Linked DNA regions of Homo sapiens. The protein of the gene in region 1 purifies or fractionates together with the protein of each later gene. This does not show direct contact. Each region holds a gene or a part of one and is shown on either strand. Other genes may lie near its edges.

Region 1 (5,577 bases):
ATGAGGTTTCACCATGTTGTCCAGCCTGGTCTTGAACTCCTGAGCTCAAGTGATCTGCCCACCTTGGCCTCCCAAAGTGTTGGGATTATAGACGTGAGCCACCACACCTGGCCTGAATTTTTCAAATAGTTTCCAACAGTTGAGGACATCACACATGCGTACCCCCAAAGGTCTAGAGGATGCAGACAAAAGCTAAAACCCAAATTTACAATAACTGTCCTTCTATAATGTCTTTAATATAGTTAACCTTGTTCTAACTATTCATAATTGAGGCTGGGTAACAAACATGCAGGTTAATTACATTGTTCTACTTGTCTTGATATTTCCATAATAAAAAGGTGAAAACAAAAAATCCTATTCCTGAAATATCAGTTTTCTCAAAGTTCAGGACATGTGCCAAACACCTACACGGTGTTGGGACCCCAAGTATACACTTGTCCCACTTGAGATATAAAATGTATGTTTCCATGCCATATGGAGTCAAAACACCGAAGTCCTTTTCTGGGCCAAGGACTCAGTTCCTTGTGTTCTAGTGGATAATGGGACCTCAGGTCACACTAATCCCCTGGATTCAATGAAACTTATTTTGGAGAACCAGATCAAAAGGCTGTGCTTACTGCTACGAAAGATCTCTTAAATCCAACTTCCTGCATTTCCTAGTCTATCAAAATTTCCATCTTATCAGACCCACCTGGCAGACTTGCTGTGTATAGCTGGTCCCTTTAATAAAGAGTCAGAGGTAAGGTCAGTGATCCAGAGAGCATGGGGAACGATGGCCCCCAGCATTCTTAGCGAAGCCCCAATTCCCATCTCTGGAACAGGTGTATATCACCCACTATTACCAAGGCTGAATTTCCTCTTAATCCTTACTATGTGCTAGGCACTTTGACCCATATTAACTCATTATATTTGCAAGCAAGCCTATTAAGGAGGTGCTCTCATGATTCACATTTAAAAGTTGAAGAAAACAAGTGGCTAAGGTCTGGCTCCCAGGTCCCAGACACAGAGTTCTATACAACGACGTACAGCAGTGCTAGTCAAAGATGAAAGTTCCTGAACTTACACTTGCCCTGTTTCTTGTTCTCCTCTATCTCAATCCTGCGCTCTCGGCGGCGTTCCTCCCGAGCCTTCTTTTGGCGCTGACGTTTCCTCTTCTCAATGTCATCTGCAGATTGGTCAGGTTGTAAAGAGGTAGACCCAGGACAACATGGTCATTACCTCCTCCCAGTATTAGCAGCTAAACCCACAACAGTAGGCCCAGCTGGACTAGATGAACAGATGAAGTGTTTAGGAGGTACTAAGACTCATGATACAGTTCCATAAGTTTCCTCCCCCACTGGGTGTCTAGCCACAAGAATCCCTGAACCCTACTATAAAGAGAAGCAGAGCAGGGGCATTCTCACCTGAGAACATCTCTAGGGTTTCCTTAGAGACCACAGGAGGTTGCAAAGCCAGTTCACAGATGCTGAACTCACAGGTGAGTGGCAAGTGAGAGAGATATCTGTGACGCTGTCGAACATCCTACATTGGAAAAAGGACCAATACTCAACAAAAGCAAGCCTAACTCTGAAAGCAGGGGGTCCTAACCCCGATATCCAACAATATATACATAACACAGCCAGCACTGGGGCTGGAAACAGTAGTGCTCAATTATCCTCATTTTGAAAAGCCAAAGAGAAACTGTCAACCTACAGCAAGGTGGAATAAGCAACCAAATCCAGTTATTTTTGGTTTGTACTGCAAAGGAGTGAACTGAGTCCAGCAACAAATAATCTAAAGCCCATCAGCTGTTTCTGATTTTTTCAAGGCCCCACAGCTGAGGGGGACGAACAGAGAAGATAAAGTTATTTGTTGGCAGAAAAACAGAACAGAAAAAAACCTGGGAACCACTGACAGAATAAATAACTGGGAAGGAAGATAAAGCAGATCTCCCTATTGAAAGACACTTGGCCTGAAATAGTAGAAAATGAAGCCCAATTTTTTTTTTCTGAGACATGGTCTTGCTCTGCCGCCCAGGCCAGCTCACTGCAGACTTGATCTCCCCAGCTCAGGTGATCCTTCTGCCTCAGCCTCCTGAGGAGCTGGGACAACAGGTGCACATCATCATACCCAGCTAATTTTTTTTTGTATTTTTTGTAGAAATGCCCTGGCTGGTCTGAAACTCCTAGCCTCAAGCAATCTGCCTGAGTAGGCCTCCCAAAAGTGCTGGGATTACAGGTGTGAGCTACCACATCCAGCCCATTTATTTTCATTTCTATTCTTTTTCTGCATATGTTTGATGAAAAATTTATAGTACTCAAAGAGTCTAATTTTAAATCTTACAACAAATTTGTGACATTTCTCCCAAGCAATAAGGAGGATAAGAAACAAAAATAAACTCCATCTTAAATAAAAGAAATATCTATATCCCCAAACTACAATCAATGAACCAGAGAAGCAGGGAACAGCATTAACTGATTTAACAGAACCCTGGCATGCTGAGGGGACACTTCACTTACAAAGAATTCACAGCACCATCACTGACAGAAAGACTAAAAATACAAAAACTAAAGGCCTTGAAGGTTTGTGAACTTAGGATGGCTAGGCCTACCTCAAAGAGATTAGGTTAATACTGCTGCCTGACCCTCCATTTCTACAGGAAGGCCTCACCTCAGACATGGAGTAGCCAGCAATCTCCACCACAGTTGCTGAGATCTTCTCGGGGCTCCTCTCCAGGCTGCCGTACTCCCGCACGAGGCAGCGCACATTCACAGGGTGCAGGAACATATGCTGTCCATCTTCCGCTGAGGACAAGGGGCTCTATCACACACCAGTCTTGGCCAGTCCCCAGGAGGCTCCCCACCCCTCCCCATGCCCAAGGGCTCAAGCCACCCAAGCCACAGGATCTAGTGGCGCTCCTCTGCTTAGAGCACCGGGTCACCTCTGAAACACCTCTGCGGCAACCCAGCCCTCTCTTCCGGCACCCTCACCTTGGTAAAAGTAGTAACAAGGAGAGCTGCTGAGGCGTGTGAAGCCTGACTTGGTGATGGGTTCCTGCTGGCTGGACTCAGTGCAAATGGTCCCCTCTTTAAGATTGTCATCTGCTAACTCCAAGTCATCACAGGCCTCTGGCAACCCCTCAGGCTCTGGTTCAGACACTGCTTCCTCCTCTTCTACCAGAGGGAGAGCAAGAGGTCTAGAAGGAGTGTCCAGAGAACAAACTTCCGTGGTTTCTTCATCGAAGGCAGACAGATACTCCAGCACACCCTGTTGCAGCAAACTCTAAGTCAACAGAAAGGATATCTCCTGCTTTCCGAAAGCAATGTGGCAAATGCAGACCTAAGAGCCAAGCTCCCTAGATGTTTATCTTAGCTGTCGTGTTCACTGATTTAACACCCCTGGGGAAAGAACTAATAACAAGCATACAGAAAATACTCATTGTCCCCTCTTCTCTTGAGAAGGTTTAGATCTCACAGTAATGCCTACCAGCTCAATGACAGCATTTGAGGAACGGCAGCCACTTAGTAACAGGAACACACTAACCTTCCTGGGTTGAAAAACAGACTCCTTCGCCAAGGGAGCCATCAGCACCAGTTGTTCCAGAGCAGCCACAACACCAGTGACCTCCCTTCTGCTTCCGGCCAATCCCGACAGAGCCTCTTCCCGAGTCTAACGTGGCCAGAGAGAACACCAGAGAAGGTTAAGTTTCCAGACACACACTTAGCTTGAAGGGCAAGGGCTTAGAATGGCCTCTCAACAGGACCAAAAGTTAAAAGGCAATGAGACCCAATGGGAAGGAATTAGGTGCTTAAATATCTCAACTTTGAGGGAAACAGGAAGCAAAAAGCATGCAATACCCACTAAGGATTGGAATCTGCTTAGAATCTGACACTGGGGAGTGTAAATTAGTTCAATCATTGTGGAAGACAGTGTGGTGATTCCTCAAAGACCTAAAGACAGAAATAAAATTTCACCCAGCAATCCCATTACTGGGTATATAGCCAAAGGAATATAAATCATTCTACTGTAAAGACACATACGGCCAGGTGTGGTGGCTCATGCCTGTAATCCCAGCACTTTGGGAGACTGAGGTGGGCGGATCACCTGAGGTTGGAAGTTCAAGACCACCCTGACCAACATGGAGAAACCCCATCTCTACTAAAAATACAAAATAACCCAGGCATGGTGGGGCATGCCTGTAATTCCTGCTACTCAGGAGGCTGAGGCAGGAGAATCACTTGAACCTTGGAGGCAGAGGTTGTGATGAGCCGAGATCACGCCACTGCACTCCAGCCTGGGCAACGAGAGCAAAACTCTGTCTCAAAAAAAAAAAAAAAAAAAAGAAAGAAAGAAAAAGAAAAACCAAATATCGCACACATGTTCTCACTTCTAAGTGGGAGCTAAATGATGAAACATGGACACATAGAGGGGAACACACACTGAGGCCTATCAGAGGGTGGAGAGTGGGAGGAGGGAGGGGATCAGGAAAAATAACCAATGGGTACTAAGCTTAATACCTGGGTGAAAATCTGTATAACAAACCCCCATGACACAGGTTTACCATGTAACAACCTGCATTTGTACCCCTGAACTTAAAAGTTAAAAAAAATAAAAGAGAATCTGACACAAACAACACTATACAAAAAACTTCCAGAACAGAAATCTAAGAACATGAAACTAACCTAGTTTTTACAAACTATGCTCAGACAGAGGTCCAGAGTAGTAGGAAGGATTTAGCTAACTCCACCTCAGCCTGGACAGCTCTAATTCTATGTAGCCTTTCTTATGCCTGTAATGGCATTTGAACAAATACGGCTGCAACGTATTATAGAAAGAAAGCAAAAGTTAAATACACAGGACTCTACCCAAGGAGCCCTTGGGAGTCAGGGAGAAGGGAATTCAAATACCAGCTGCATCCCTTACTAGCAAATTACCCAACCCAGGATTCAGTTTCCTCATCCATGAAAGGGGATAGTTCTATCTACCACACTAGAAGCTTAAGTGAGATAAATGTGTATAGCACAAGTCCTATCAAATGCTGATCACTCAATAAATATGGGCTTCTATTGCTCTAAGCTAGATCAGTGGTTCCAGGAGTGTGGTCTGGGGATGAGCAGCCATCAGAATCACCCTAGAACTTGTTATATGCAAATTACTGAGCCTACTGAGCTTAACCTATGCAATCAATATCTCAAAGTGGGACCTAACAACCAGTGGTTGTGATGCTTCAAGAATCTCTGTTGTGGAAGATAAAAGACCCAGGGAATTCTGTTCTTGTGTAATTCTTGCCGTTTCAGGTACTCCTAAGGCATACTGGGCAGGCCATAATACTTTCTCCACAATGTCTTTCAAAACACCTCTAGAATAGAATCTTAAGTATTTTCCCAGAAAACAAAGAACTCTAACTTGCTTTAAGAACATAGCTAATCTAAAAAACTCCACTGTCACAATTAGTTATAAAATCATTTTGACTTGCTCCTTTCAGCTCTAGAAAGAGCTTTAAAAGCCCTAGGTTAAACCTTCTCTACTGTCATCAAACAAAGCCCAAAACAAATTGGCTTTTTTAGCCATTCTCTGCTTATTGTCTTAAATGTGGAA
Region 2 (5,060 bases), on another chromosome or scaffold:
CTACTTGGGAGGCTGAGGCAGGAGGATTACCTGAGCCCAGGGAGGTCAAGGCTGTGATCGTGCCACTGCACTCCAGCCTGGGCAACAGAGTGAGACTCTTGTCTCAAAACAACAACAACAAAATTTACTTCAATGGTATCTAGTTTTTAAAACAGCTAATTAATATATTATTTTATAGCATCATGAGAGAAAGACAAATTGTTTCTATAGCAAGCATCTTCTAGCACGGAATAATTAAATTCAAGTTAAACTATCTGTAGTTACTGCTATTATTACTGTGGCACTGAGTTAAATACAAAACTCCTGCTATGTATCATGCACAGATAAGATTTCTTTTTTCTTCCTACTTCCTTCCTTCTACTATTTTTTTTCTTCAGTTTTATGCTGTTTTCTTTACTTCCGACTTAGAAAATCATGGCTTACCTTACTTACCCCTACTAGAAAATGAACAGTTTCTGGCACCTGACTTCAGACTCCCAGAATTACCAAGTATTTCTGCGGACTATGTAACAATAATAAACTGTTTCCAAGGCTCCAAGTACTGGCAACATCACTAAATAGGGCAACAAAAAGAAACTGTGGCTTGAAGTTTCACTAGATCTTTGTCATTTTAGATAGTAATTTTGTGAATTGCTAGATTTAGATCCCCAAGTAATGCAAGAAATCAAATAAAGCACCCCGCAAGTATTTTATCCATCACACAAAGCTCTTCCACTCTCTCCAATAAGGTAATAGTTTATGACTATGTGACTAACATCAAGAAGTAGATAAATTATGCCAATGAGCCAGACTTAGCAGATGATTAAAGAAATCTGTTAACAATTTACTTGTTTTTCTATTCTTCCACCAATCTCTTGATTTTAAGAACAACTTATTTTAAAGGCAAGTGGCTTATATAATCGTTCTTCATAAAGTCTCTTTTCCCAGTGCAGTAGCAACCTGGTTTCCATTTGAATGATTATCCAGGTAAGCTAACTAAATGTAAGAATTTATTTTTTATAAGAATTTCATTCATTTTAGCCTATTTAGGCATCCTACTCACTTATAGACGTAGGTGCAAACACAACTGGAACTATTCCATAAAATATTCATACATGTCACCACTGTGTAATTTCTTCCTACACCCTGAATGGAGGCTTCCTTTAAACTTTAAATGAAAATTATAATTGAGCTTGAGTCACAAAGAGTTTACCTCCCCAATAATGTTAATTATGTCACTAGATTTCATCCTCTTGCATCCCTACTCACTGAAATTCTTCAAGATTTCTTAATGTGAGGCAGGATAATTTAATTTTATAGGGAAATGCAATTGTGAACATGGAAAAGCATTATTTGGAGGTATACCCAAGATACTTCTACAAGAACAATAAGCTAAAATGCTAAATCATTTCCATTTACTCACTAACTAAACAACCTTTCATACCAGGAGCTCAGAGTCTGGAGGTGAAGGGGAAGGTGAAGACAGACAATAAACACATATGCAAATAAGCAAAGAAGATTAAGTGTAAGTCATGATCAGTGCTGAGAAGAAAATAAATTCAGAGCTGTGACACAGACTACAAACTGCAACAAACTGCAGAAACAAACTGCAACACAGATCATCTATAAACATACATAGCAGATTGACATCAAAGCCTTTCTAGGTTGCCTTTATGACTTCTTGACATATGCTTAGGTTCCGAGGATCAAAGCCCCTCAAACTTACCTGTTTCACTTTCTAGAACTAAAGCTAGTCTGTGACATCTCTAGCAGAAAATAAGGCACATCGACCATTTCACAGCACCTCTGCAATTAGGCTTTTGATTATGTGGTGTGATAACTTATCCACACTGAAACATTTTCAAAAGAGAAAACAGATTATTATTATTATTTTGTGTTTTTTTTTTTTTTGAGACAGAGTCTCGCTCTGTTGCCCAGGCTAGAGTACAGTGGTGTGATCTTGGCTCACTCTAACCTCCGCCTTTCAGGTTCAAGCAATTCTCCTGCCTCAGCCTCTCAAGTAGCTGGGATTACAGACATGCACCAGCACGCCCAGATAATTTTTGTATTTTTAGTAGAGACGGGGTTTCGCCATGTTGGCCAGACTGGTCTCGAGCTTCTGACTTCAGGTGATTCGCCTGCCTCAGCTTCCTGAAGTGCTGGGATTACAGGCTATCATTGTTATTTTTTAAGACAAGGTCTTGTTCTATGTTTCAGGCTGGAGTGCAGTGGCATGATCACAGCTCCTCTTGGGCTCAAGCAATCCCCCTGCCTCAGCCTCCCAAGTGGCTGGGACGACAGACATGCATGCCACCATGCTTGGCTAATGCACTTTTTAAAATTTTTTGTAGAAATGGAGTCTCCCTGTATTGCCGAGGCTGGTTTTGAACTCCTGGGCTCAAGCAATACCCCGGCCTTGACCTTTTGGAAATGTTGGGATTACAGGCCTGAGTCACCCTGCCCAGCCGGGATGTTTTTAATAATTATGCCAGAGCAGGCACAAACAAGGACTTTCCACCAGGGCAAACTAGGCCATATGGTTACCCTAATTATATACCACATCAAATGTAAATAGCCAAAAATTTCAAGAGTAGTTTATAGTTCCAGATATATTTAAATTATAATATCCAAGCCCTAAATTATAATATGGACAATATAAACCAAGTGAATCCCTTACTAAATATAAAGCTCTGAATATCTCACATTGTACACAAAATCAATTTCAGATGCATTATAAACGTCAATGTGAAAAAGCAAAGCACAAAAAGGTTTAAAGATAATCAAAGTATCTCTATGATGTTTTAAAAAAAGAAACACTAGCCATAAAAAACTGATGAACATGTTTACATTAAAATGAAGAACTTCTGTTAATTTAAAGAAACTACTAAATGGAAAAAATGTTTGCAATATATACATCCAACAATGGAGATATATTCAGAATACAGAACTCTAGAAAAAGACGTGTTTCGATTTAAAAAAGGAAAAGATTTCAAAGGCATTTTATGAAAAATGAAATCCAAACACCCAGATATGAAAAGCTGGTCAGCCCCATTTAGTAATGAGGGAAATGATTAAAACTAAATACAACTACATACCCACCAGGATTGGCTAGAATTGAAATATATGATACCACGTACGGTTGTTGGTAAGGGATATGAAACAAGAACTCTTACATACTAATAAATGAAGTAAAAACCACTAAACAACTACTTTGAAAAACTACCTGGCATTACCTGATAAAGACCAACATTCCCCATGTTCTTGCAATTCAAATTCTAAGTATATAATCTCAAGAAAACGAAATAAACATGCACCAGTGCACTTAAACAGAAATGTTCATAAAAGCATTGTTTATAATAGCCCCAAACTGCAAACAATCTAAATGCAATATCCAAAACAATGGCAGAAGGAATAAACTTGTGTTATATTCATGATGGAATATTATGAAACAATAAAAGCTAAAAATAAAATATATACAACACAATCCTATTTACATAAAGTTAAAAATGGGCAAAATTAAACTCTATTATTTAGAGATGTAAACTTATATGGTAAAACTATAAATGTCAGAAGAACATTTATATCTAGCTTAAATTAAGATGGTGATAGTTGTGATGGGAAAATATAGGTGGTGGGAGGCTTCTGGGATGCTGGCAATGTCTGTCTTGCCCTGGGTGGTGGTTACAAAGATGTTTGTTTAAAAATATTTCATTTTTATCTTATGTATCTTTTCAGCCTGTGTAGTTAGGTTTCCCAATAACACTCTCCCTGAGAAATTAAAAAAAAAAAAGTTCAAAAGAGAATGCTAAGACTGTTACTCAAAGAGATTAACTCTTAATCCATAGTTTAAAAACAGTAACAGGGATCTCTACATCCAAATACACACTGTATTATAAATTCCATGAATAAACTTTTGGCTTCAGGCCGGGTGCAGTGCCTCACACCTGTAATCCCAGCACTTTGGGAGGCCAAGGTGGGTGGATCATCTGAGGTCAGGAGTTTGAGACCAGCCTGGCCAACATGGTGAAACCCCGTCTCTACTCAAAATACAAAAATTAGCCAGCTGTGTTGGGCGCCTGTAGTCCCAGCTACTCGGAAGGCTGTGGCAGAACTGCTTGAACCCGGGAGGTGGAGGCTGCAGCGAGCCAAGATCGCACCACTGCACTCCAGCCTGGGCAAGAGCAAGACTCTGTCTCAAAACAACAACAAAAAAAAACGAAAACAAAACAAAACAAACACTTTTGGCTTTAATCTTTTAGACTACCATTCTTCGTTCAAATTTTGAAATGGAAGGTGAAATTTTCTGATATCGAATTACTCAACAAGTCATGTAAATTTTAAAATTTTAAGATTGAACTCCTTGCTTCTAATCTTGAAATCTGAAATGTGTCCAGTATTGACTAGACAGTTATAATGTAGTTTTCGATTAGATAATATCATGTAGACTAATATATAAAGGTTTGATAATGTCAGTTTTTGCGAACATAATCAAATTCCCCAAACTGGTTACACATTTAACTCATGTTGCTTAAGAAAAAGCAGCCGGGTGCGGTGGCTCATGCCTGTAATCCCGGCATTCTGGGAGGCTGAGGCAGGTGGATCACTTGAGGTCAGGAGTTCAAGACCAGCCTGGCCAATATGGTGAAAGCCTGTCTCAACTAAAAAATACAAAAATTAGCCAAGCGTGGTGGCACGCGCCAGTAATCCCAGCTACTCAGGAGGCTGAGGCAGGAGAATTGCTTGAACTTGGAAGGCAGAGGTTACAGGGAGCCAGGATTGTGCCACTGCACTCCGGCCTGGGCAACAGAGTGAGACGCCATCTCAAAAAGAAAAAAAAAAAAGAAAAAGAAAAAGCATATAATGATGTGGGATGAAATATCAAAGCCATGAGTACAAACATAAATTCAATGATTAAAAAAATTTTTCACTGCTATATTCATATATTTATCAAGTCATGACACAAAGAACAAATTTATATTTTATGTCATTATGTCATATGAATTTAACTATTACAGACTAATGAAATACTGACTCTAAAAGCTGCTGAAAAGTTTTTTAAAATGTGGGTTGTTAAAATGTAG
Region 3 (5,060 bases), on another chromosome or scaffold:
CTGTCACAAAATAGTTTGGCAAACTCATAATAGAAAACATTTTTGAGGGTTCACTCCTGTAATCCCAACACTTTGGGAGGCCGAGGCGGGTGGATCACCTGAGGTCAGGAGTTTGAGATCAGCTGGGCCAACATGGTGAAACCCAGTCTCTACTACAAATACAAAAATCAGCCGGGTATAGTGGTAGGTGCCTGTAATCCCAGCTACTCGGGAAGCCGAGACATGAGAATCGCTTGAGCCCTGGAGGTGGAGATTGCAGTGAGCAAAGATCGTGCCACTGCACTCCAGCCTGGGTGACACAGTAAGACCCTGTCTCAAAAAAAAACAACCCCCCAACTTTTGGTACTTGGTATCCCTCTAAAGAGCATTGGTAGGAAATACAAATGCCTAAACCAAAGGAGTAAGGCACTGGTGACAGAATTTCAGGCATTGATGGGTGAACTCTTTTTTGGGGGTGGTGGTTGTCTTGGGGGTGTCTACTGTCTCTCAAGTAACATTAATTAGACAGTTACTGGTTTTACCTACAGTTAACATGTCCCACTCCATAGCTCCTTAAGATCCCACTCCATAGCTCCTTAAGACTTCTGACAACCTTACTACACAGCTAGTCCCAATGAGGGAGCTATTTACAGACTTGTAGGTTGGTTTTACTTTAAGCAAACTTTATACATAAAAACTTTTGTCTCTTTTTTTTTGTTTTTTTTGTTTTTTTCCCTGAGACAGAGTCTCACTCTGTTGCCCAGGCTGGAGTACAGTGGCACAATCTTGGCTCACTGCAACCTCCGCCTCCTTGGTTCAAGCAATTCTCCTGCCTCAGCTTCCTGAGTACCTGAGATTACAGGCGCGCACCACCACGCCCGGCTAATTTTTTTAATTTTTAGTAGAGATGGGGTTTCACCATATTGGTCAGGCTGGTCTCGAACTCCTGACCTCAAATGATCCACCCGCCTCGGCCTCCCAAAGTGCCGGGATTACAGGCATGAGCCACTACACCCAGCCAAAAACCTTTTCCTATTAGAAGGATTTAGCATTGATTCTTTCAAAATGATTTGTCACGTCATCCCTTCAAACAGCCCATCCCTTTAATGCACATCATTTTTTGTGCATTAAAAATTAAGACTATTGAGTTCCTGCTGGCAAGGATTTTTTAAAAATTGAGTGATTCCTAAAATTGTGATTTGATACAACTCTTCTAGAAAACATAGCTTGTTTGAAGTTTTGTTTCAATCTGTTAGAGAGTGATTTGGTGAAAGAAAGGTAGGGCTATCTGTAGGATAATGGGGTATTGCTTTAGTTTATTCCCCTAGGGACTGCTTTAGTGGCCTTACATTCTAGATATTTTTCCAGCAAGTGTGAGTGAGTCATGGAGTCTTGACCAAAGCTTGATCATTGCTTATTGGCAATTAATAAGATCAGGGTCTGGATCTACCAAAAAACCCACAGAATCTACTAATTCTGTTTTCTTAACTTGTGTCCTACTCTCCTCTATACCTCTTCTCCCATTTGAGAGCCTCTGCTCTTAAATTCTCTGCTATACTACCTCCCTTTTAATGTCCCTCAGCTAGAATTCAGTATGAAAAGGAAGGGATAGGAAAAAGAAGAAAGAGTGCCCACCAATTACAAGTTTATACATACATATATGGTATATAATGTTACCAGGATTTTTTTTTTTTTTTTTTGAGATGGAGTTTCGCTCTTACTGCCCAGGGTGGAGTGCAATGGCACGATCTCAGCTCACCACAACCTCCGCCTCCCGGGTTCAAGCAATGCTCCTGCCTCAGCCTCCCAAGTAGCTGAGATTACAGGCACATACCACCACGCCCGGCTAATTTTTGTATTTTTAGTAGAGACGGGGTTTCACCATGTTGGTCAGGCAGTTCTCGAACTCCTGACCTCATGATCCACCTGCCTCGGCCTCCCAAAGTGCTGGGATTACAGGCCAGGATTTTTATATTAAGTATAAAGGTTCTGGATTTGAGCTTCTTCTTGTGCCTAGCCACGGAATAAACAGAAATACCCTGAATAGACTCCTTTTTCTCAGGATCCTTTCATTTTCAGGGTTCTTTTGCCCTTTGGGGCATGTAATAGCAATATATAGTAACAATAGCTAAAGGAAAAGACTTTTCTGTATTCCCCAATCCCTGATACTTTTTTCTTTTTTTTTTTAAATGTGTTAAACTAAGTCTCAATCCTCAAATAGTTGTACTTCCTATTTATTATGGAAAATAAGCCTCCACCTCCCTAAGTGCAGGGATTACAGGTGAGAGCCACTGCACCTGACCCTCTTTCTTTCTTCTCTCCTTTTTTGTTATCTGCTTCTTAAACATTCTTATTTTTCCTCTGGTTTCTCTTGCATGTTCTTAGCTAAGCACCATTACTCTATTGTTGAACCCGACAGTTTACTAGTTTGCCAGATGTACAACTAAGATTAGTGTGTAAGCATGGAGAGAGGGAGATATACCAGTGAACAGGTTGGTTACAATGTGATAAATTGTAGAAAATATTTTACTTTCATTTACCTCCTGAGAGAAACAAAGAAAAAAGGGTCAGCTGATATGATGGAAGGGCAGTGGATTAGATGTGTTCTCACTTCCATCTTGGCACACACTGGCAGTGTGAAGTTGGAGTAATACTTTCCTGTTCCTCAATTTTGCCATCAGTAAAATATCTTGTGTTATCTACTTCAGTGAATGGCATAACTCTGTCCACTCACCTGAAGCAAAATCCTTAGAGTATTAACTGGATTTTATCCCTTACCATATCAACTAAGATTTGTCAATTCCATCTTTGCAGGAACTCCCATCTTTTCTTCCTTTCCTTTTTAACTGTTACTGACCTAGTCCACATTCTCATCCTTACCTGGAATACTGTAGCAGCCACCTGTTTAAATATCCAACCTCTCCAGTCTATTTCTCCACTAGTGTTTTTTCTTTATGTTAGCTAGTTACCAGGGTTTTCCTTCTTTTTTTTTTATTGTGGTAAAATACATATAACATAAAATTTACTATTTTAACTGTCTTAAAATGTACACTTCAGTGGCATTTACTATACTCAATATTGTGCAACTATTTTCAAAAACATCTTTATCACTCCAGATGTAAACTCTGTACTATTCCCTATTCCCTCCTCCCTCTTCATTAGTGTTTTTATTTTGTTTGTTTTGTAGGTGTATTTTTTTTTTTTTAAGAGAGAGTCTCTCTGTGTTGTTCAGGCTGGAGTGCAGTAGTGCGCTCACAGCTTACTGCAGCCTCAGCCTCCTGGGCTCAAGTGATTCTCCCATCTCAGCCTCCCTAGTAGCTGGGATTACAGGCATATGTCATCATGCCTGGCTGATTTTTGTATTTTTAGTAGAGACAGGGTTTCACCATGTTGGCCAGGCTGGTCTCCAACTTCTGATCTCAGGTGATCTACCCCCTCGGCCTCCCAAAGTGCTGGGATTACAGGTGTGAGCCACCACGCCCAGCCAGTTTTATTTTTCATACTGCCCCAGTTAAATATCCCCACCTTCCCCGCCGCCGCTGAGACAGGGTCTCACTCTGTTGCCCAGGCTGGAGTTGCAGTAGCATGATCACAGCTCACTACAGCCTCAATCTCCCAGGCTCAAGGGATCTTCCCACCCCAGCCTCCCAAGTAGCTGGGACTATAGGCACATGTCACCATGCCTGGCTAATTTTTTTTTTTTTTGAGACAGAGTCTCTCTCTGTCATCAGGCTGGAGTGCAATGGCGTGATCTCTGCTCACTGCAACCTTCGCCTCCTGGGTTCAAGCGATTCTCCTGTCACAGCCTCCCGAGTAGCTGGGACTACAGGCACGCCACCACACCCAGCTAATTTTTGTATTATTAGTAGAGATGGGGTTTCACCATGTTGGCCAGGATGGTCTCGATCTCCTGACCTCGTGATCTGCCCACCTCGGCCTCCCAAAGTGCTGGGATTACAGCCGTGAGCCACGGCGCCCGGCTGCCTGGCTAATTTTTTTAATTTTTTGTAGAGACAGGGTCTCCCTGTGTTGTGCAGGCTGGTCTCAAACTCCTGGGCTCAAGCAGTTCTCCTGCTTTAGCCTTCCAGAGTGCTGGGATTACAGGTGTGAGCCATCATGCCAGCCTGTATTTCTAAATAAGTATTATGTATGATTATATTACTTCTTCACCAGAAAATGTTCAGTTGCTCCCATTTTCTGCAGTATGATTGTTGAGCATAGCACTCAGGATCATCTATGATTATGTTGGAGACTATGTTTTCAGCTACATCTTACCCCTCTTTTCACATATATGCTAACACTGGTGGTTATTGAGCATTTGTAATGTTTTTGATCTTTCTATCTAGAATACCTTTTTCTTCCCATCCATTATGAGCCTCATGAGGGTAGAGAGCTTGTTTCACTCATATTTGAATATTTCGTTGACTAACTCAGTAAGTGTTCATAAAATTGATTATTTTTGGACAGTAAACTTTTACTATGAAGAGCCAGAGAGTAAATATGTAAGGCTTTGTGGGCCATATGGTTGCAGCTACACAACTAGGTGGTTGTATAAAAGCAGCCAGAGATAGTGTGTAAATGGATGAGAGAAGTCATGTTCCAATAAAACTTTATTTCTGGACCATGAAATTTGAATTTCAGATCATTTTCTTTTCTTTTTTAAGACGGAGTTTCGCTCTGTCACCCAGGCTGGAGTGCAGTGGCGCGATCTCGGCTCACTGCAACCTCTGCCTCCCAGGTTCAAGCAATTCTCCTGCCTCAGCCTCCCAAACTAGCTGACTAGCTGGGATTACAGGCGCCTGCCACCACGCCTGGCTAATTTTTTTTTTTTTTTTTTGAATAGAGACAGAGTTTCACCATGTTGGCCAGGCTGGTCTCAAACTCCTGACCTCAGGTAATCCACTTGCCATGGCCTCCCAAAATGTTGGGATTACAGGTGTGAGCCACTGCGCCCAGGCTTTTTTTTTTTTTTTTTTTTTTTGAGACAGGGTCTCACTCTGTCGCCCAGACTAGAGTGCAGTGGCAATCTCAGCTCACCACAACCTTGTCTCCTAAGCTCAAGCAATTCTCCTGCCTCAGCC
Region 4 (5,060 bases), on another chromosome or scaffold:
TCACCTTTAAAATACAGGCATTGCTTCAGACCTCCTTAATTCTTTTTGTGCTTTGCTGTTTTCTTCTCTCTCTTTTTTTTTTTTGACACAGAGTCTCGCCCTGTCGCCCACGCTGAAGTGCAGTGGCGCGATCTTGGCTCACTGCAAGCTCCGCCTCCTGGGTTCACGCCATTCTCCTGCCACGGCCTCTAAAGTAGCTGGGATTACAGGAGCCTGCTACCACGCCCGGCTAATTTTTTTTTTTTTTTTGTATTTTTAGTAGAAATGTGGTTTCACCGTGTTAGCCAGGATGGTCTCGATCTCCTGACCTCCTGATCCGCCCGCCTTGGCCTCCCAAAGTGCTGGGATTACAGGTGTGAGCCACCGTGCCCGGCCTGTGCTTTGCTGTTTTCTATTCATCCTCAAGGACAAGCAGTCCCAACCTCTTAGCAATTCTGGCATAAAACTCCCAATGGTCGGCCGGGCGTGGTGGCTCACATCTGTAATCCCAGCACTTTGGGAGGCCAAGGCGGGCGGATCACGAAGTCGGGAGATTGAGACCATCCTGGCTATCACGGTGAAAACCCAGTCTCTACTAAAAATACAAAAACTTAGCCGGGCGTGGTGGCGGGCGCCTGTAGTCCCAGCTACTCAGGAGGCTGAGGCAGGAGAATGGCGTGAACCCAGAAGGAGGAGCTTGCAGTGAGCCCAGATCGCGCCACTGCACTTCAGCCTGGGCGACAGAGCAAGGCTCCGTCTCAAAAACAAAACAAAACAAAACTCCCAATGGTCTACTGCTCACTTCTTTAGCTGGAAACAACGTCTTCCCTCCCTGTGTTCAAACAACTCTCAGATCCTGTGCTGTATTATTGGACATTTTTCTCCATTCCTACTAATACCACCTTAACTTAAACTCTAAGGATCTAGGAATCTAGAATACTTAGTATATGGATACTAGATACTAAGAATCTAGTAATGAGGATAATAATAGTTTATAAACAGGAGAAATATATGTGTCTTATCAAGTACTATGCCTGGTACACAGCAACTGCTATATAAGTGGTAGCTATTACTATTATTTTATATATATATATATATATATATATTTTTTTTTTTTTAGACAGAGTCTTGCTCTCTTGCCCAGGCTGGAGTGCAATGGCGCAATCTCGGCTCACTGCAACCTCTGCCTCCAGGGTTCAAGCAATTCTCCTGCCTCAGCCTCCCCGGCACCTTGGATTACAGGTGCACACTGCCACATCCGGCTAATTTTTGTATTTTTAGTAGAGACGGGATTTCACCATGTTGGCTAGGCTGGTCTTGAACTTCTGATCTCCGGTGATATGCCTGCCTCGGCCTCCCAAACAAAGTGCTAGGATTACAGGCATGAGCCACTGCACCCAGACTACCATTATAATCTTTTAACTGGTCTTCTTAGCTCTAGGTTTTTGTTAACTATAATCCATCCGAAACACTGTCTCATCAGATCCCTGTTCTAGCTCTTCACTGTCTCCCACATAAAGCTGTAACCTCTAAACCTAAAATCAAGGGCCCTTTCTTGCTTATGACTGAATACAGAACTGCCATGTCACCCAATTCCAGGGAACACCATTCACTGCCACACCCAGAAGCTCCCTATCTATGCTTTGTGATACTTCATTAAGCTATATACTTTTCATGTTTCTGTACTGTGTTATGCTTTAAGTTTTTAAAATCTCCTGTATGTTACACATATTGGTGTTGAGTTTTGAGTATCTTTCCAGACTTTCAAATAAACATACAATTTTTAAAATAGTACCTTCTACATACTGCAGAATGTTCTATTTTACCTAACACACAGAAAAGTAAAAATGTAGGTAAACAACCCAAAAGTAGGCCAGGCGCAGTGGCTCACGCCTGTAATCCCAGACTTTGGGAGGCCAAGGCAGGTGGATCACCTGAGGTCAGGAGTTTGATACCCCGTCTCTACTAAAAATACAAAAATTAGCTGGGCATGGTGGCAGGCGCCTGTAATTGGAAGGCGCTTACAGCTACTCCGGAGGCTGAGGCAGGAGAATTGCTTGAATCCACGAGGCAGAGGTTGCAGTGAGCAGAGATTGCGCCACTGCATTCTAGCCTGGGCGACAAAAGCAAAACACAGTCTCAAAAGAAAAAAAAAACCCAAAAGTAATGTACGATCATCATCAATTTAAAAAAAACACCCTACTATCCATCCTTAAGTGACTCTTCAACATGAGAAACAACCCTAAATTTACAGAAACCAAAGAACCTCAGACCTTAGAAAACAAAGAAAGTACAGAAATAGACAATGGCTACTCTGATTCTGGAAGAAAAAGAAACTACAGAAAAGATATCCATAGTCATAAAGTTGGTAGGATGAAAATAGAAGTTTTAAAAAAACAACAAAAAACAAACTTAGACCACCACCACCACAATATTCAGGGAACCCATACAAGTCAGGAAAAAACAAAAACACAAATCTATAAGCCCAGCTGAATGAGAACATATTCAAAATATAAAAATACAATGTAGTTAATAAATAGGTGACTAAAAGTAACTTCAGAACTTGAAGATAAGATCAGCCTGATCAGAGGTAATGAGAAGTTTTGAAAAAAAAAAAAAAAAAAAAAAAAAAGGTCAGCCTGAGATTAGACTAGGAAAAATTCAAGTTAATGAATTAAATGAATAAATGTAACCACCCATAAAAGCAGCCTAGCCTAAGAAATGCTCTGTCAATAAATATGTGGCTGAGGAAACTAAGAAATATCCAAATATAATCAGGGTGATCAGGGAGTGAAGTCTCTGAAATGCATGATTGATGTAAAACAGCAAGGTGTAATCCAACCAAATGTATTGAATGTAAAGCCCCCAAATCAGAAAATATTCCAATTACAGAGGCATGTTTCATTTTTGGTACTGATGGGCTTGTCAGTATGAATACATTACCCCTAAAGACCACCGATTTATTTTAATCCAATCCCATGCTCATTATGTAACACTGTGATTATAATTTGGTCTACACAGACACCTTGATGTATAAAAGGGAGGAGAACTTTGTCTCAAAAAGGTATAATGCCTGCTGGGAACTGTGGTGGGGGTTGAGGGGGATCCTTTCTACCCTACAACATCCAGCAGAGTGCATTCTAATTGCTCAACCACCATATACCACAAATACGGGATTTATGGCAAATAGTCTCTGTATATTGCTGTTAGGTCTCCTCTGCTAGACTTGTATCTCTTTAGAGTAAGAACAATCAACAACAAATATTTAATATACACTTACTTCCTGCTAGGTTCTGTTCTAAGTGCTGGGATAACATTGCCAAAAAAAAAGTCAAAATCCAAGTCCCCGTGCAGTTACATTCTGATTGGGGAAGAGAGAAAAATACTTAAAAATAGAAAAGTACAGAAAATGTTGGAAGGTGACAAGTGCTAGGAGAGGCATGTCAGGAGAGTGGTTTGTAATTTTAAATATGGTGCTTATGGTAAACATCATTGCAAAGGTGAAATTTTAGCAAAGACTTGAGGTAGACAGACTCCTAAATTTGAATCATAGTCACACAGCTTACTATAAGGTGAATTTGGGCAATTTATTTAAGTCTCTGTGCATCAGTTTTCTCATAAAAAAAAAATCTTACCTACCTCATAAGGTTGTAAGGACTGAGTTATTTATTTGTACAATTTCTGGACCACACTAAAGTACTATAATTCCTGAGGTTTTGTTTTTTAGTTTAAAATAATGTAAAAAAAAAAAAAAGTTAAAAGAATGGGTCATGCAGATATCAAGGGGAAGAGTATTTCCAGCAGAGGTATACCAAATGGAAAGGCCCTGGTATTAAAGAAGCAGCTATGCCAGTGTGGCTGGAATAGAGTGCGTTTTGTAAAGGGGTAGAAAAAGATGTCATTATAAAGGATGCAGGGATGCTTAGGGCTGCTTCCAAACTTACAGACTTTTACTTAGATAGGGAGTCTCAAGAGGGTTTTAAGTGATCAACTGTTTTGACTTTTTAAAAGATTCACTGCATTTGCTGGGCGCGGTGGCTCACGCCTCTAATCCCAGCACTTTGGGAGGCCGAGGAGGGCGGATCATGAAGTCAGGAGATCGAGACCACCCTGGCCAACACGGTGAAACCTTGTCTCTACTGAAAATACAAAAAATTAGCCAGGCGTGTTGGCGGGTGCCTGTAGTCCCAGCTACTCCGGGAGGCTGAAGCAGGAGAATGGCGTGAACCCGGGAGGTGGAGCTTGCAGTGAGCCGAGATTGGGCCACTGCACTCCAGCCTGGGTGACAGAGCGAAACTCCATCTCAAAAAAAAAAAAAAAAAGATTCACTGCATTAAGAACTGACTATTGGTGGGGCGTGGTGGTTCACACCTTTAATCCCAGCAATTTGGGAAGCTGAAACTGAAGGATTGCTTGAGTCCAGGAGTTCGAGACCAGCCTGAGCAACATAGTGAGACTCCATTGCTACAAAAAACTTAAAAATGAGCTGGGTGTGGTGGCGAGCCCCTGTAGTTCCAGCTACTTAGAAGGCTGAGGTGGAGAATCACTTGATCCTGGGAGGTTGAGGCTGCAGTGAGCCACGTTGGTGCCACTGCACTCTAACCTGGGTGACAGAGCAAGACTCTGTCTCAAAAATAAATAAATGCATAAATAAAGAGAACTGACTGTTGAGGGAAGGTGGGGCATAATATATATATCAAACAGTGGAAAACGGGAAGGAGGCCAATCAAGAATCTATTATAATCCAGGAAAGATGGTCAGGCGCGGTGGTTCATGCCTGTAATCCCAGCACTTCGGGAGGCTGAGGTGGGCCGATCACCTGAGACCGGGAGTTTGAGATCAGACTGGCCAAAACAGTGAAACACCGTCTCCACCAAAAACACAAAAATTAGGTAGGCGTGGTGGCGCATGCCTGTAATCCCAGCTACTTGGAAGGCTGAGGCAGGAGAGTCACTTGAACCCGGGAGGCGGAAACTGCAGCAAGCCGAGATCACGTCACTGCACTCCAGCCTGGGTGACAGAGCAAGATTCTGTCTCAAAATAATAAATAAATAAATAATCCAGGAAAGAGATTATGGCTT

The links.
Region 2: the proteins of RNF10 (region 1) and LSM14A purify together in Homo sapiens (co-immunoprecipitation; one large-scale study listed by IntAct). This does not show direct contact.
Region 3: the proteins of RNF10 (region 1) and HAUS2 purify together in Homo sapiens (affinity purification with mass spectrometry; one large-scale study listed by BioGRID and IntAct). This does not show direct contact.
Region 4: the proteins of RNF10 (region 1) and ATAD2 purify together in Homo sapiens (co-immunoprecipitation; one large-scale study listed by IntAct). This does not show direct contact.

Annotation. Positions count from the first base shown.
Region 1 is NC_000012.12:120,561,016-120,566,592, reverse strand, and holds part of RNF10 (E3 ubiquitin-protein ligase RNF10), read right to left. Parts: intron 3,649-5,577; coding exon 3,523-3,648; intron 3,262-3,522; coding exon of another isoform or gene 3,247-3,261; coding exon 2,970-3,246; intron 2,784-2,969; coding exon 2,650-2,783; intron 1,522-2,649; coding exon 1,404-1,521; intron 1,166-1,403; coding exon 1,064-1,165; intron 1-1,063. UniProt on the Homo sapiens protein: E3 ubiquitin-protein ligase that catalyzes monoubiquitination of 40S ribosomal proteins RPS2/us5 and RPS3/us3 in response to ribosome stalling.
Region 2 is NC_000019.10:34,174,991-34,180,050, reverse strand, and holds part of LSM14A (protein LSM14 homolog A), read right to left. Parts: intron 1-5,060. UniProt on the Homo sapiens protein: Essential for formation of P-bodies, cytoplasmic structures that provide storage sites for translationally inactive mRNAs and protect them from degradation. Acts as a repressor of mRNA translation. May play a role in mitotic spindle assembly.
Region 3 is NC_000015.10:42,551,325-42,556,384, forward strand, and holds part of HAUS2 (HAUS augmin-like complex subunit 2), read left to right. Parts: intron 1-5,060.
Region 4 is NC_000008.11:123,388,901-123,393,960, forward strand, and holds part of ATAD2 (ATPase family AAA domain-containing protein 2), read right to left. Parts: intron 1-5,060. UniProt on the Homo sapiens protein: May be a transcriptional coactivator of the nuclear receptor ESR1 required to induce the expression of a subset of estradiol target genes, such as CCND1, MYC and E2F1.